Regions from separate parts of the Homo sapiens genome. Here region 1 is linked to region 2. A link means that fine-mapping ties the variant in region 2 to the expression of a gene that starts in the linked region. Tissue or cell type: whole blood. Region 2 holds a variant in brackets; the other region holds the start of a gene. All regions are shown on one strand. Distances are from middle to middle.

Region 1 (6,623 bases), 25 kb after region 2:
AACGTTATTAATCATTAGTTTGTAGCAATTGCTCTTTATTCCAAGATTATAATAATCTTCGCTCTACAATTGTAACTTACGAGAAACCAGGCCATACAGAGACAGGAGCTGAAGGGGCAAGGTGAGAAGTGACCAGAAGACAAGAGTGTGAGCCTTCTGTCATGCCCAGACAGGGCCACTAGAGGGCTCCTTAGTCTAGTGGTAATGGCAGCACCTGGGAAGACGCCCATTACCTAGCGGACCTTGGTCTAGCGGTAGCGTCAGTGCCTAGGAAAAGCACCCACTACTTAGCAGACCAGGAAAGGGAGTCTCCCTTTCCCTGGGGGAGTTAGAGAAGACTCTGCTCCACCACCTCTTGTGGAGGGCCTGACATGACTCAGGCCCACCCGCAGTTATCCAGAGGCCTAAACGTCTCCCTGTGATGCTGTGCTTCAGCAGTCACACTCCTAGTCCACTTTCATGTTCCATCCTGTACACCTGGCTCTGCCTTCTAGATAGCAGTAGCAAATTAGTGAAAGTACTAAAAGTCTCTGAAATGCAGAAATAATGGTGTAAGCTGTCTCCTCTCTCTCTGCTTCGGCTGCCAAACAGGGAAGGGCCCCCTGTCCAGTTGACACGTGACCCACGTGACCTTACCTATCATTGGAGATGACTCACACTCCTTACCCTGCCCCTTTTGCCTTGTATCCAATAAATAACAGCGCAGCCTGGCATTTGGGGCCACTACTGGTCTCCACGTGTTGGTGGTAGTGATCCCCCGGGCCCAGCTGTTTTTTCTTCTATCTCTGTCTTGTGTCTTTATTTCTACCATCTCTGGTCTCCGCATATGGAGAGAAAAACCCACAGACCCTGTAGGGCTGGTCCCTACACAAGACTCCATCTCAAAAAAAAAAAAAAAAAAAAAAAAAAGAACAATCAGGCCGGGCTCACGCCTGTAATCCCAGCACTTTGGGAGGCCGAGGCGGGCAGATCACGAGGTGAGGAGATAGAGACCATCCTGGCTAACACGGTGAAACCCCGTCTCTACTAAATATACAAAAAATTCGCAGGGCGTGGTGGCAGGCACCTGTAGTCCCAGCTACTCAGGAGGCTGAGGCGGGAGAATGGCGTGAACCTGGGAGGCAGAGCTTGCAGTGAGCCAAGATTGTGCCACCGCACTCGAGCCTGGGCGACAGAGCGAGACTGTGTCAAAAAAAAAAATCAAATAAAATAAAAAAATAAAAATACAAACATATAAAATACAAAAATTAGCTGTGTGTGGTGACGCACACCTGTAGTCCCAGATACTTAGGAGGCTGAGGCAGGAGAATCGCTTGAACCCAGGAGATGGAGGTTGCAGTGAGCCGAGACCACACCACTGCACTCCAGCCTGGGCGACAGAGCAAGACTTGTCTCAAAAACAAAAAACAAAACTGCTGTACACCAAGACATTTGCTGTAGCATTATGTATGTTTCTAAATCATCTAGCTATCGCATAAGAATAGAACGACTAGTAACAATGTATCCTTTTGGCAACACTGATAAAGCAATAAAATACAAAACTCAAATGAGGAGCTACAGCGTACCATGGTAAAGCCTCAGGCGACAGACAGCAAAAACATATCCAATTGCACGAATTACAGAACATGAACACTTTTGCCACACGTGGCTACTGAGCACTTGAAATGTGGCTTGTGGGGCTGAGGAACTGAGTATTTTATTTTGTTTTAATTAACTTCAATTTAAACGGCAGCTCTAGAAGGCAGAGGTGGCTTAACGATATACCCCATTAGGTAAAGATGAAAAGCAGCATGTTGCTTTGGCCGGCAGGTGGGCAGCACTGTCGCTGCAGAGGAGGGTGGCCGCCAGTAAGCCCACTCCAGCAGCCCCACCTCAGGACAATGCAGCCACCAGACTATCCCCCCTTTTACCATGATAAAAGGAAGGTCACCGGGCCGGGCACAGTGGCTCATGCCTGTAATCCCAGCACTTTGGGAGGCCGAGACGGGTGGATCATTTGAGGTCAGGAGTTGGAGACCAGCCTGGCCAACATGGTGAAACCCCGCCTCTACTAAAAATACAAAAATTAGTTGGGCATGGTGGCTCACGCCTGTAATCCCAGCACTTTGGGAGGCCGAGGCAGGCGGATCAAGAGGTCAGGAGTTCAAGACCAGCCTAGCCAGCATGGTGAAACCCCATCTCTACTAAAAATACAAAACTTAGCTGGGCGTGGTGGCATGCACCTAAATCCCAGCTACAGCTACTCGGGAGGCTGAGGTAGGAGAATCACTTGACCCCGGGAGGCGGCGGTTACAGTGAGCCGAGATCGCGCCACGGCACTCCAGCCTGGGCAACAGAGCAAGACTCCATCTCAAAAAAAAAAAAAAATTAAGCCGGGCGTGGTGGCAGGTGCCTGTAATTTCAGCTACTCGGGAGGCTGAGGTACGAGAATTGCTTGAGCCCAGAAAGTGGAGGTTAAGGTGAGCCAAGATCGCGCCACTGCACTCCAGCCTGGGTGACAGAGTGAGACACTGTCTCAAAAAAAAAAAAAAAAAGAAGAAGAAGAAGAAGAAGAAAGGTCACAGGAAGCATTTTCCAAACCCCGAGAGAGATGAAAGAGGAAAAACTAAACATTCTACCTTAATAGCCAGCCCAGAGAGGTCCGCATTGTCTGGCACGGGGGGCAGGCCCAGTCGGACGTCCATGTCATAAGTGCGGCTGTGCACAAGGGCCCCGAAGAGCGAGACCCGGGTGTCTCTCTCGAACCTGTCACCACAAGGGTCACCAAATGAGAAGAGCCCGACGGTGGGCAGGCCAGTGCCTGGAGCAGCCTCCATAACCTGAAGTGTTTCCTGGATCATGCTGTGACACAAACACTCTTCTCTGGAGATCAGAGACTGAACGTCCATCTCAAACACACTCAGGTCGTCGCAATCATAGCCGCTGTACGGAACGTTTCTCCCCACATGCTTGTTGTTAAGGAAGTAGTCTCGTTTTCTCGGCAGAACTTGAGGGGGACCACTCCCTGCCAGCTGAACCAGGAGGTCCAAAACAGACCCCACCTCCAAAAGCGGACAGCAAGGGGCTGCTTCCAGCTCCTCCACAAGCTCCTCCAAACGGTCGGCCTTGGGGCCCAGGCCACCCACTCTCAAGTCAAAGGACAACATGAGGATCTTGTTTCTCGCTGGTAGTTTTGACATGTCAGGCTGCAGCTGTTGAGTCTCATCTTGAAAAAGATTTGTGAAAAGAGCATTGTAGGCCACCTTCTTGAGGCTCCGCTTTGCCCTCTTCCGGTTCACACTGCGCTGGCCCAGGTGAGTCTTGGCAGCCGGCAGGAGGGCCTCACACAGGTCGTCGAACAGCTGCGTGATGCTGGCCATGCCCCTTCTCAGCTCCGGGCCCCCGGCGTGTGGGAAAACACCTCACCCGGGCTTCACTCACGCTCCGGAAGACAGGGAGTGAGAGAGGGTCCGAAGAGGCTGAATGACAGGCGGCCTCTCCAATGCCGAAGCTCAGAACTGGTATTTTTTAAAGGAGGTCTTGCGGTTGCTCTACTCAGAGTAAACACGCCCTGCCCTCCCCAGTCCAAGCACGCTGCCCGGCGCCCGGCAGCCCACCAGAAGCCAGCTCGGCGTTTCTTCTAATTCAGTAGCCCTCAACCTTTAGGGAGTCACAGAACCGTGGCAAAACCGAAGAACGAAACGCGCGCCCGCGCAGTACAGCGGACGAACTCGGCTTTGCACCCGTTCTTCGGGACCCACGAGAGGAGACGGCCAGGAGAGGGTGCCACTCCGAGGGTCGTGGGCAGCGGAGAGTCTGGGGGCTCAGCCGGGTGGGTCCCGGGTTCTGGCCTGCACGTCCACCCGTTCTCCAGGCCTCACCCGTGGAAAGTGCCCACGGCTGCCGCTCTCGCCGCCTCCGTCGCGTCACAGCCGCGCCAGTGTGAAGAGCACTAGGGCGGGCGCGCCGGAAATACGTCACGGGAACGCCGGCAGCGCGTGAAGTTGGTGAGGCCTGGGCCGCGGCATACTTCCGGCCTGAGTCCGGCACCGCGGGTGAGAGACCGAGGCCGAGCGTGCTCAGTAAAGGAGGCAGAGCCAGCGTTTCGTTTGAGCGATGTTTACTAACGGCGCAAGGGCGGGGAGCGAAGCGCAGCGGGGCGCAGGGGCCGGAACGGGACCGAGCGTGGGTTGCATGGGCCTCGATGGGACGGGCCGGGGCGCGATGGGTGGGGCGGGGGCGAGGTGAGGTGAGGGGTGGAGCGGGGGAAGCACGGGTGGGAGAGGGCGGGGCGCGGGGATTGGGAGTGGGCGGGGTTCCGTGCCCCAGAGTCGAGGGAGCCGTGGGCTTGGGGTCCGGATCGCGGCCGCGGGGCGCTGGCGTGCGGTGTCATTTCTGCGGTGTAAATGCTCCCACCTTGGCCGATTTCAAGCCACCAGGTGAGGATGGCACTACAGGAGGAGCCGAGAAGAGGCGCGCAGTTGGCCTCCGGCGCTGGAGCTGGTTCAGGGCACTCCCCTGCCCTGCCCTCCCCACCGATCTGTGCGGCAGAGCCAGGCCCCAGGGCAGGGCCATGCCTCCGCAGTCAGCCTCACCTGCAACATCTTCCACTGAGGCTCCAGCTGCCCTCTCAGGTACATCAGGGCCTGGACGTCCTCTGGGGAGGCCACAGAGGAAGGGCCTAGGCTAGGAGGTGCCTCTCCATTCAGCACCCGGGCCAGGATCCCTGCTAGCTGGGGTGTGGAGTTCTGGACCAGGGGCGAAGACGGAAGCAGTCACTGGTCCTTTCCCTCGTCCCACCCCGCAGCACCTCCACCCTGCCCAGCTTACCTCCTCCAGGAGGGCCAGGACTCGGCCCCCTGCCAGCCCCCGAAGCATTGCAGCCAGGAGTGCAGCGTGGGGGCCCTGCAGGCCATGGCCAGGCCCCAGCGCCACCAGCACCAGGTCAGGCTGGAAGCCATAGGCCAGGGGCAGCACCAAGCCCAAGATGCAGCTCAGGAAACCACCGGTCATCTGTGGGGACAGCAGAGCCCAGCTCCTCATCTACGGACACCTGCTGGCTCTGGCCTCCCAACCTCCCAATCTCAGGGCCCCTGGAGTAGGAGCAGGGAGACAGGAAGGACCAGAGGCCTGCTATCATGACAATGCCAGCAAACAGCAGCTGTACACATCCATGGGCTCCCCAGCACCTGCCTTGCCGCGTGGCATGGTCACTCACCACTGGCAGTGGCGTGGAGACATGGAACATGGATAGGGCAGCCGCCTCCTTGCCCCTGATGTTCAGCCACAGACTCCTCCTTCCAGGACACAGGTGCATAAGTGTAAGGCCCTGCTCACCCTCCTGAGCCCAAACCGCAGAGGCAGAGGTGGAAGAGCATTCACGGGGCCATGGGCAGGGGTGCTGTGACTGCTGAGCCTCTGTGCTGGAGACCCACCTGGCATTGCCTCCAGCAGCCCTTCTCCCACACCCCAGCTGAGGAAGGCTCCATTCAGTACCACACAGTGCCCCACCCACCCGTCACCCTGGGGCCCAGGCACACGTCCATCACATGCCCGTCCACATGCATGGCTGGACATATGCAAGACCTGAGAGTCCTACCCGTCATGGGCGAGGTCTGGAGGCCGGTCCAGCTGTCCCAGGGCCACGCACAGCAGCCTGGAAGAAGAGCTGGCCTCAGGACAGGTGTTCATGTTGTCCAGAGTCCATTCCCAGAACTCTCTGTGCTTGGCCAGCCAGGATAGGGGTGCCCACAGGTCCTGCCGTCAGAGGCTCAGGATGGCCAAGTGAGGCTTACCTCTGGGCTCCGTGGGACAGGCCTCTCCGAACAGCCACATCCAGGGTGGCTGCTGCAGCAGAGGCTGGAGTGGCTGCTATACCACTGTTCACCTGTGGGATGAATAAACAGTGGAGAATGAGGCACCAACCAACTCCCAAGCCAGGTAAACAGATCCACAGTTCCCTTCATTCGGTGTGTCTCTGCGGCTACTGTCAGCCACACATCTTCTTACACTAAGGTCAATCACTCCATTTCTGTAAATAAGATGCTTACGTCTATAATTTTTTTTTTTTTTTTTAGAGAGGCAGGGTCTCGTTCTGTAGCCAGGCTGGCGTGCAGTGGCGCAATTGTAGCTCACCACAGCCTCAAACTCCTGGGCTTAAGCGATCGTCCTGCCTCAGCCTCCTAAGTAACTACAGGCACACACCACCACGCTTGGCTGACTTTTTTATTTTTTGTGAAGACAGGGTCTCCATATGTTCTCTAGGCTGGTCTTGAACTCCTGGGCTCAAGCGTTTCTCCCACCTTGGCCCCCCAAACTGCCGTTATTACAGGCATGAGCCACTGCACCCTGCCTAAATGTATACTTTAAATCACCCCCTTCACCTCTCTGCCAAAGAGCATTTAACTGAAGAAGCTGAGGTCAGAGGTCAGACACACTAGTGATCCCCACCCCTGGGGCTGTTCTGGGAACAGTTCCTGGCACAAGGCAATGTTCACATCCATGTGGTTCTGCACCACCCAGCCCTCCTCTGGACAGGCCACATCTCGTTGGCAGGTCCTGGTCCCTGCCCCTAGGTCCACAGCATCCCCAACCCCTCCCAGGTGCTCCCACCTGCCCATCCAGCATCCCATCTAAGAGGTACA
Region 2 (7,602 bases):
CCTTCCGGCCCCAGATGGATCCCCGGTGGGTACTCAGTTCCTACTTCTTTGGATTTGTTTCCAGAAAAGGAAGCATAATCAGAAACAGAGGCTGGGGGAGAAGCTAGAGACAGAGCTGGCTGGGGCCCAGGTGGCTGCTCCGCTCCCAGGGACAGATTCAGTCAGGGCTTCAGGGCATCTCTGCGATGCTGGGGCCGGTTGGTCACAGAGTAGAGAGTGGCGAGGCTGACACAGGTGTGGGGGCAGACAGTGGTCTCTGCTGTGGGTGGGCTTCAGAGAAAGCCTCTGGGTTTCTAGGGAGAATGGGCTCCCAGAGGTCAAGCTTTCCCACACCATCTTCCAAAGGGAAGGGCTGCCCTGTCTGAAGAGTCCCGCCCACGTGCAGGATGAGACGTGGAAAATATTGTTGCTTTAACTTAAAAAACAAGACCAGTGGGGTTGGCTGGGAGCACCGGCCAGCAGGCCCTGCTGAGCATAAACCCCCTCCACTGGAGAAGGCGTGGCCCCTGCCCACCTGGACCCTTCTGGAAATGAGGGAAGTGCTAACAGCAGTGCCCATCCCACAAGCATTAAACTCGGGAGGTGGAGACTCTCCAGCAGAAAGCTGGGCAGCAGAGTGGTCCTGCCCCTCGGCCCACAAAGGGCCTTGGCCGAGCATGGGCATGCCTGGTGTGTGCCCACTGGGGTCCATCCCTGCCAGTGGGGTTCCAGGGACCTCGGGGACCGGGCTGCTTGGGCCCTTGGACTCTAGGTGAGCCGTGAGAGCGGGCTGGGGCAGGCGGAGCAGCTGCCTGCAGGGCAGGGACACGGTCAGGGGCTACCTCCCAGACACCCTGGCCTCTCCACAGGCAGCTATCCATGATGCTGATGCTGGCGCAGTCAAACCCGCAGCTGTTCGCGCTTATGGGCACCCGGGCAGGCATCGCCAGGGAGCTGGAGCGTGTGGAGCAGCAGTCTCGGCTGGAGCAGCTGAGTGCGGCAGAGCTGCAGAGCAGGAACCAGGGCCACTGGGCTGACTGGCTACAGGCGTACAGGTGAGCCCTGCGTCCATGGTCACCGGGGGACGGCGGGTCGCGTGCTGGAAAAAGTCCAGCCCGGCTGTGACTCCAGAGCCCGGATGTCATTCCAGAGCCCGGCTGGACAAGGACCTGGAAGGCGCTGGGGACGCTGCCGCCTGGCAGGCTGAGCACGTGCGCGTGATGCACGCCAACAACCCGAAGTACGTGCTGAGGAACTACATCGCGCAGAATGCCATCGAGGCTGCCGAGCGCGGGGACTTCTCAGAGGCAAGCACACGCCTGTCCCTGTGGTCCCTGGGAGGGGGGTCGGCCCCAGACCCCTCTCACCCTCCTGATCCTCCAGGTGCGGCGGGTGCTGAAACTACTGGAGACCCCTTACCACTGCGAGGCGGGGGCCGCCACAGACGCCGAGGCCACGGAAGCCGACGGGGCGGACGGCAGGCAGCGCTCCTACAGCAGTAAGCCCCCGCTCTGGGCAGCAGAACTGTGCGTGACATGATCTTCGTAACGGCCTCGGCACGCTCCACACCCCTGGAGTCTCCCGAGGCCCCCATGTGCTGCTGAGTGGCCAAGATGATGCCAGGCTGCCCTATACACTGGGGGATTCTGCCCTGGCCCATGCACACCCGTCTTTCCATGATGGCAGAGACATCCAGTCAGGACCTGACCCGTCTCTGTCTGAGGCCGGCTCAGCAGTGCAGCCTGGTCCCTGGGGGCTGGACCCAGGCTCCTAAATAAACCAGCAACTCCCTCGAGTCTGTCTCTGTGGTCATTGTTCCCCCACCCTGCCCTGTCCTCAGCCCCCACCCAGGAGAGAGAGCTGCAGACAGGGTCCGAGAACACCTTTATTGTGCACGTCCCCCGCAGAGCAGCCTCAGGCGTCCTGGTAGTAGTTGTTGAAGTTGATGCGCAGCAGAAAGTCCTCCAGGTGGGGCTGGTAGCCGCGGTTCACCAGCTTGGTCACCACTGGGGACCAGCGAGCAGCTCAGGCTTTTGCCCACAGTGTGAGCCCCGCCCTGGCCCCCCCGCAGCCCTCCCAGCCAGGGTGGGCCTCACCTTTGAAGAGAAAGTGGGAGTAGTACTTGAAGGTGTTGTAGGACTGCTGCATGAGTGCAAAGTTGGGGTGCTCTGCACCCCGCGGGCCCCCAGGGGGCCCCCAGGCCTGGGAGATGAGCTGGCTGCGGAACTTGAGCACGAGGCTGAAGATGCTGTGGATGACGTTCATGACGGGCGCCGCCTTCTCCGTGAGCAGGCCCCTGGGGGGAAGCAGTGCTGCTGGGTGGGCTGAGCCGTGACCACAGGGACGCAGCCGCTGCCCAGGCCTCACCTGAAGACGGCCTTGTGCAGGTACTCTGCGTGCGCACGCTGGATCTCCTCCAGGTCGCCCACGGTGGCCAACCTGGCCCTGAACTCGCACCAGGTGACGTGCAGGATCTGGTTGGCGATGTAGCCCTGGATGACCTTCACGAAATGCTGCATCTCGTGCTTGAACAGCTGCAGCTGACGGAACTGCACAGAGCCGGCCATGTGGCTCAGCAGGGCTGGCGGAGGGCAGAAGGCAGAGGGCAGAGGTGAGCGCAGCCTCCAGCCAGGGGTGCGGGGCGCCGGGCTCCAGCGGGGCCTCACCTGTGCGCTTGAGGTGGAAGCAGACGTCCTTGAGCGCCCACATCATGAGCTTCAGCTGCAGCAGGAAGGAGAAGACGCCGCTGTACTTGCTCACGCAGCCCTCGGTGATGACAATGTTGAGAGGCCAGTCCACCTGCCAGGAGGCGTGGCTCAGCAGGCATCCCACAGGCAGGCAGGCCCCTGTCCCATCCCCCGCGGCCAGGGCTGCTGCTGACCTTGTACCTGAGCTCCAGGCAGCTCAGCACATCCGGGGCGTTGGGGGCAAACACCTCGGGCAGGTACTTGAGAGCGAGGGAGAGGTTGGAGGCGTGCGGGGTGTCCCCATGCAGGCTGCACTGCAGGGCCTTGCTCAGCACAGAGTTCAGCACCAGCGGGTTGAGCAGCTCTCCGGGCGTTTGCCCAGCTCCAAGCTAGGCAGAAAAGGGACCACCGTCCCCAGGAGTCCCAAGCACATGCCTGGCACTCGCCGGCACCCCATGGGGCTGTGCCAGAGCAGCAGGGGGCTGTGGGCGTGCAGCCAGTCTCTCTTTTCCCACGGCCTCCCCTCTACCACTGGCCCCACCCCGTGTCCGGAGGCCACCTTCTCAAAGAGCAGGTCGCTGAGGGACTGGGCGAACTCGCCGTCCTCCATCAGCAGGAAGTGCCGCAGTGCCTCATAGTGCGCCTCCAGGTGCAGCTCCACGAAGAAGTAGTCGACAGCGGCCTTGTTCACCAAGGAGATGCTGGCAGGAGGGAGCTGGAGTCAGGGCGGGCCAGGACGGGCTGGGTGGGCAGACTGGCGCAGGGGCAGGGGCACTCACTGGGCGGCCAGCGGTGCCGTGATGGAGCGCTTCATGAGCACGGGCAGCGTCAGCAACTCGCTCAGCTGCACAGCAGTCTCATCAGCGGCAGACTGGACCTGGGGGTCCACGGGGAAGGCGAAGGCCCGGGGAAGCACGGGGCGCAAAAGATGAGCAATGGGCGGCTCGGCTGCGGGAGATGGAGCACGCACGTGCTGGGAACCGGCCAGCCCAGGGCTCCGCCCCCATCCACAGGAGATGGAGCACGTGCTGGGAACTGGCTAGCCCAGGGCTCCGCCCCAACCCACAGGAGGTGGAGCACGTGCTGGGAACCAGCCAGCCCAGGGCTCCCTGCCAACAGCAACTGCTGCACTCACACATGGACTCGTAACTGTCCGGGTACCGCTCCAAGTGGTACTGCCCTGCCAGGCCTGCCAGGTAGGCCTGCTCCCCACCCTGAGCCTCCGCCGCCGATGCCTCCGCCTCCTCACCACGGCCTGGGCTGCTCTGGGCAGCTGTGTCTTCCTAACAAAACACCAGCCTCAGAACCACCTCCCCACTGCACGCTGTCCCCACAACCAGCTTGTGCCAAAAAAAGGAAAATCGCATGTGGGACCCACCCGCGTGACAACCTAGAGGGACAGAGCCCTCCCTGCCTGCTGTGGGACCCCCAGGCTGCATCCACCTAACCTGTGAGTTGAGAGGCCAATTTGGAGAGAGGTCCTCAGTGTCCCCGCTCCTCCCAGGGCCTGTGTGGACACAAGTGGACACGAGGGCATCAGGGCCGAGTGCCTGTGGCGGGTAC[A/G]GAGCCGAGCCGGCCCTGGCTCAAGCAGCCCCTCCCATGTCCCCCACAGCAGCCCAGGTCCTGGCTGACAAGGAGGCCTGAGGGGAACTTCACATGCCACCAACCCCACTGCCCGCCTACCTCCCAGGCTCTGTGCGTCCCACAGTCCCACTCCTGACCACCAGCCACCCTACTCTGACCTAGTTCTTCAGAGACACTGTCTCCCGGGGTGTTGGGCCACCATGGTTGGGTGGGAGCCACGTCTGACACGTTCTCCCCCACGCTGATGCTCCCCTCCCCGCAGCCCGAGCTGGGGGAGGACAGAGATGGCCCCACTTCTACAGGCAGCCGTGGCCCACAGTCCAGCACAGTGCTCTGTGCTCCCAGGCTGAGCGCTGACTGGGACGTGTGGCCAGGGGGGCTCTGTTGGGGCCTGGGTGTGTTGGGCTCAGCTTCTGGTGAGAGAGCCCCCAGCACCATGTGGGGCGGAGGGATGGGTACATGGGTGTTCCACCGTGGCCGGGTGGAAACCACATCCGACACAGGCTCCCCCAAGCTGATGCTGGCGTCGGACACGTGTCCATGGGTGTTGCACCGTGACCGGATGGGAGCCACGTCCGATACGTTCTCCCCAACCCTGATGCTGGTGTCAGACACATGTCCGTGGGTGTTCCACCGTGGCCGGGTGGGAGCCATGTCTGACACAGACTCCCCCAAGCTGATGCTGGCATCAGACACGTGTCCATGGGTGTTCCACCGTGGCCGGGCGGGAGCCATGTCTGACACAGACTCCCCCAAGCTGATGCTGGCATCGGACACGTGTCCATGGGTGTTCCACCGTGGCCGGGTGGGAGCCACGTCCGACACGTTCTCCCCAACCCTGATGCTGGCGTTGGACACGTGCCCGTGGGTATTCCACCGTGGCCTGGTGGGAGCCACATCTGACACATTCTCCCCGACCCTGATGCTGGCGTTGGACACATGTCCATGGATGTTCCACCGTGGCCGAGTGGGAGCCACATCTGACACAGACTCCCCTAAGCTGATGCTGGCATTGGATACGTGTCCGTGGGTGTTCCACCGTGGCTGGGTGGGAGCCACATCTGACACATTCTCCCCGACCCTGATGCTGGCGTCAGACACGTGCCCGTGGGTGTTCCACCGTGGCCGGGTGGGAGCTATTTCAGAAGCGTAGTCCCCTGTGGGAAGACCACCCCCTGACACCTGCCCAAAGAGCCGCTCTGTGGGCTGGCTGCTCCCCTCCTCCAGAGCAGCACGCCTGGGTGGGTGTGAGGGGAGCAGAGTCTCCCGCGAGGCGGAGCCACAGGCATCCATCTTCCCACAACTGTCCTCCCACAGCTGTAGCCCTGAGCTGCCCAAGCTGCACTCTGCAGCCTGCAGGGGCCCTGGTGCAGGTGAGGTGGCCACAGCTGGCCTCAGGACAGTACTAAAGTCGTACTCCTGTGGCCTGGAGGGCTGAGTGCTGGCTGCTGCGGGTGCCTCCCCAGGAGCTGAGGGGGGCAGGTCCAAGTTAATGGTCTGCAGCGCCACCTCCAGGAGAGGGACCATGCCAGTCTGCACGGACGGCTCAGCCCCTGGGCCCACAGGTAGGAAGTCTCCAATGCTGAGGCTGTCAGAGAAGGGTCTGGCCCCCTCCGCCTGCTGCAGCCCCCTGCCACCAGCCCCCACTGCTAGAGGCTTAAGGGGCTGTGGGGTCAGCAGGCCTGGCCTGTTCCAGCCATCCCAGGCAGGCGAGTGTTGCTCTGCAGACCCAGAATCACAGCCTTGGCCTCCCTCTGGGTGCTCAGGGCCCGGAGACGTGACCTGAAACACAGGTGACATCAGACCCAGTCTGGTCTCAGGACCCCCCAGCCCTCGAACTGTCCCCCAAGTTCAGCTCTGCAGCCATGACCAACACCAGGTGCCGAGGGCTATGGGAAAACCATAGGGCACCCTGGGTTCCACTCTGCCGCTTACCTGGGGGTGCACGCTCAAGAGGACGTCTGGCGGCTCCTGGGGCTGGTGAGCCTCAGACACTGCTTTCAGCATCTCCTGAAATTCAAGCCAGAGGGGTGACTGGCCAAGCCGGAGTCAAGCACAGCCCTACCCCACACAAAGCCACAGCCCCTACCGCCCATGGCAGCCATGTGCACTGAACCAGACAAGGCTTGTGCTGGGCTCCAGTGGGACGCTGGGCCTGCAAAAAGTACTCCAAAACCACGAGCTCCTCACCACCTGTATCTGTGCAATTTGGTGGCACACGGGGAGAGAGAGTGCTCTGCCGCAAACGCGAAAGCCACCAGCCCTCTCCTAGAAGAGCATGTAGGTTTGTGTGCAGTCTCAGGGGGTTTCCAGACCCCCAAAGCCCAGGGGAAGAGCTGCCATCTGAAGCCGCAGACATACCTGAATGTGTTTCTCATCTTCTAAGAGAAAACGAAGCCGTGCACTCTCCAGTCGGTGCCTCTGGATTCTCCACAGTGCCTTCTGCTCCCGACGAGCTGCCTCTGCAGAGAGCTTGCTGTAGTGGTCGACCAGTGCCTGCCTGAAGCCACACACCAGAGAGGACACGGCCACAAGAGTCACCCCACCCCATCTACCTGGCACCCCTCAGGCCAGGATGGTTCTCCATAACAGAGGCCCCAGTGGGCCCCCGCCCCCGTCTCCCCCTACCAGGGGCTGATAGCTCTGGGCCCTCACAGCACCTACAGGGCAGCACCAGGCAGGCCCTTCTACCTGCCAGGCTGGGAGACCCTGGTGAGTCAGCGTCCAGCCAGGGCTCAGCAACATCTGCTGGACAAATACCAGAATGAGATCCTGTGTGGCCTGAAGCAAGGGGTGAGCAGGAGGCCGAGGGCCCCAGGCCTCTAAGAAGTTAGGCCTCTTCCCCTTCTACAGGTACAAACCTGAGAACTGAAAACTAATGCAAAAAAGCACATGAAGCAAAACCAACACAAACGCTTTATTTGCTGAATTCAAAGCCTGCTTCACCGATCGTGCCCCATGATTTTGAGCTTCTCACCAGCAGGCAACTGGGCTCAAACCTGGACTGGCCAGCTCTAATTTGGCTGCCACAGGCCAGAGACGTAGTGTCTAGGCCTGGTTTTCTCCATGTGTTAACAGGACAGTATCGACTGACATACATGCATGAACACGTACTCATGCATAAATGCATACACGGACACACGTGCACACAGGCACGCGCACCCCTCCACACACATCCCTCACTCGCTCCATAAAGAGATCTAAGGTTGGGACCTACAGCATCGCGTGGGGCTGAGCAGGAAGCGGCCAGCCCCTCCCGTGAGGGGCTCTCTCCAAAACCCCAAACAGCCCCTTGAAGGATCCAGCACTACTCAGCCTGGGACAGCCTGATGACAGCACAGGACAGGTTGAT

Evidence for each region. PIP is the estimated chance that this variant, and not a neighbour inherited with it, causes the effect.
Region 1: TUBGCP6 starts here. The variant in region 2 is fine-mapped to the expression of TUBGCP6 in whole blood (TOPMed, PIP above 0.99). The same link has a PIP of 0.9 or more in spinal cord, testis and thyroid.

The regions. Positions count from the first base shown.
Region 1 is chr22:50,241,101-50,247,723 of GRCh38, forward strand. It overlaps TUBGCP6 (tubulin gamma complex component 6), which reads right to left and starts at 3,923. Exons shown (of 25, transcript NM_020461.4): 1 at 2,619-3,923. The coding sequence starts at 3,359. It overlaps HDAC10 (histone deacetylase 10), which reads right to left. Exons shown (of 20, transcript NM_032019.6): 14 at 6,592-6,623; 15 at 5,775-5,866; 16 at 5,579-5,635; 17 at 5,198-5,276; 18 at 4,810-4,992; 19 at 4,575-4,727; 20 at 4,083-4,430. The coding sequence ends at 4,407. RefSeq lists enhancers at 305-604, 2,512-3,442, 3,016-3,295, 3,706-3,755, 6,430-6,623 and a silencer at 4,226-4,295.
Region 2 is chr22:50,215,843-50,223,444 of GRCh38, forward strand. It overlaps SELENOO (selenoprotein O), which reads left to right. Exons shown (of 9, transcript NM_031454.2): 6 at 1-25; 7 at 849-1,034; 8 at 1,130-1,286; 9 at 1,363-1,774. The coding sequence ends at 1,527. TUBGCP6 (tubulin gamma complex component 6) reads right to left here. Exons shown (of 25, transcript NM_020461.4): 14 at 6,612-6,750; 15 at 6,186-6,260; 16 at 4,409-6,032; 17 at 4,115-4,173; 18 at 3,802-3,949; 19 at 3,446-3,614; 20 at 3,226-3,367; 21 at 2,861-3,055; 22 at 2,646-2,778; 23 at 2,347-2,560; 24 at 2,076-2,275; 25 at 1,852-1,985. The coding sequence ends at 1,894. Among named protein-coding and RNA genes, the nearest start is that of SELENOO-AS1, 9.5 kb to the left of the region's middle. RefSeq lists an enhancer at 3,753-4,395. The variant A/G (reference allele first, on the strand shown) is at 4,230.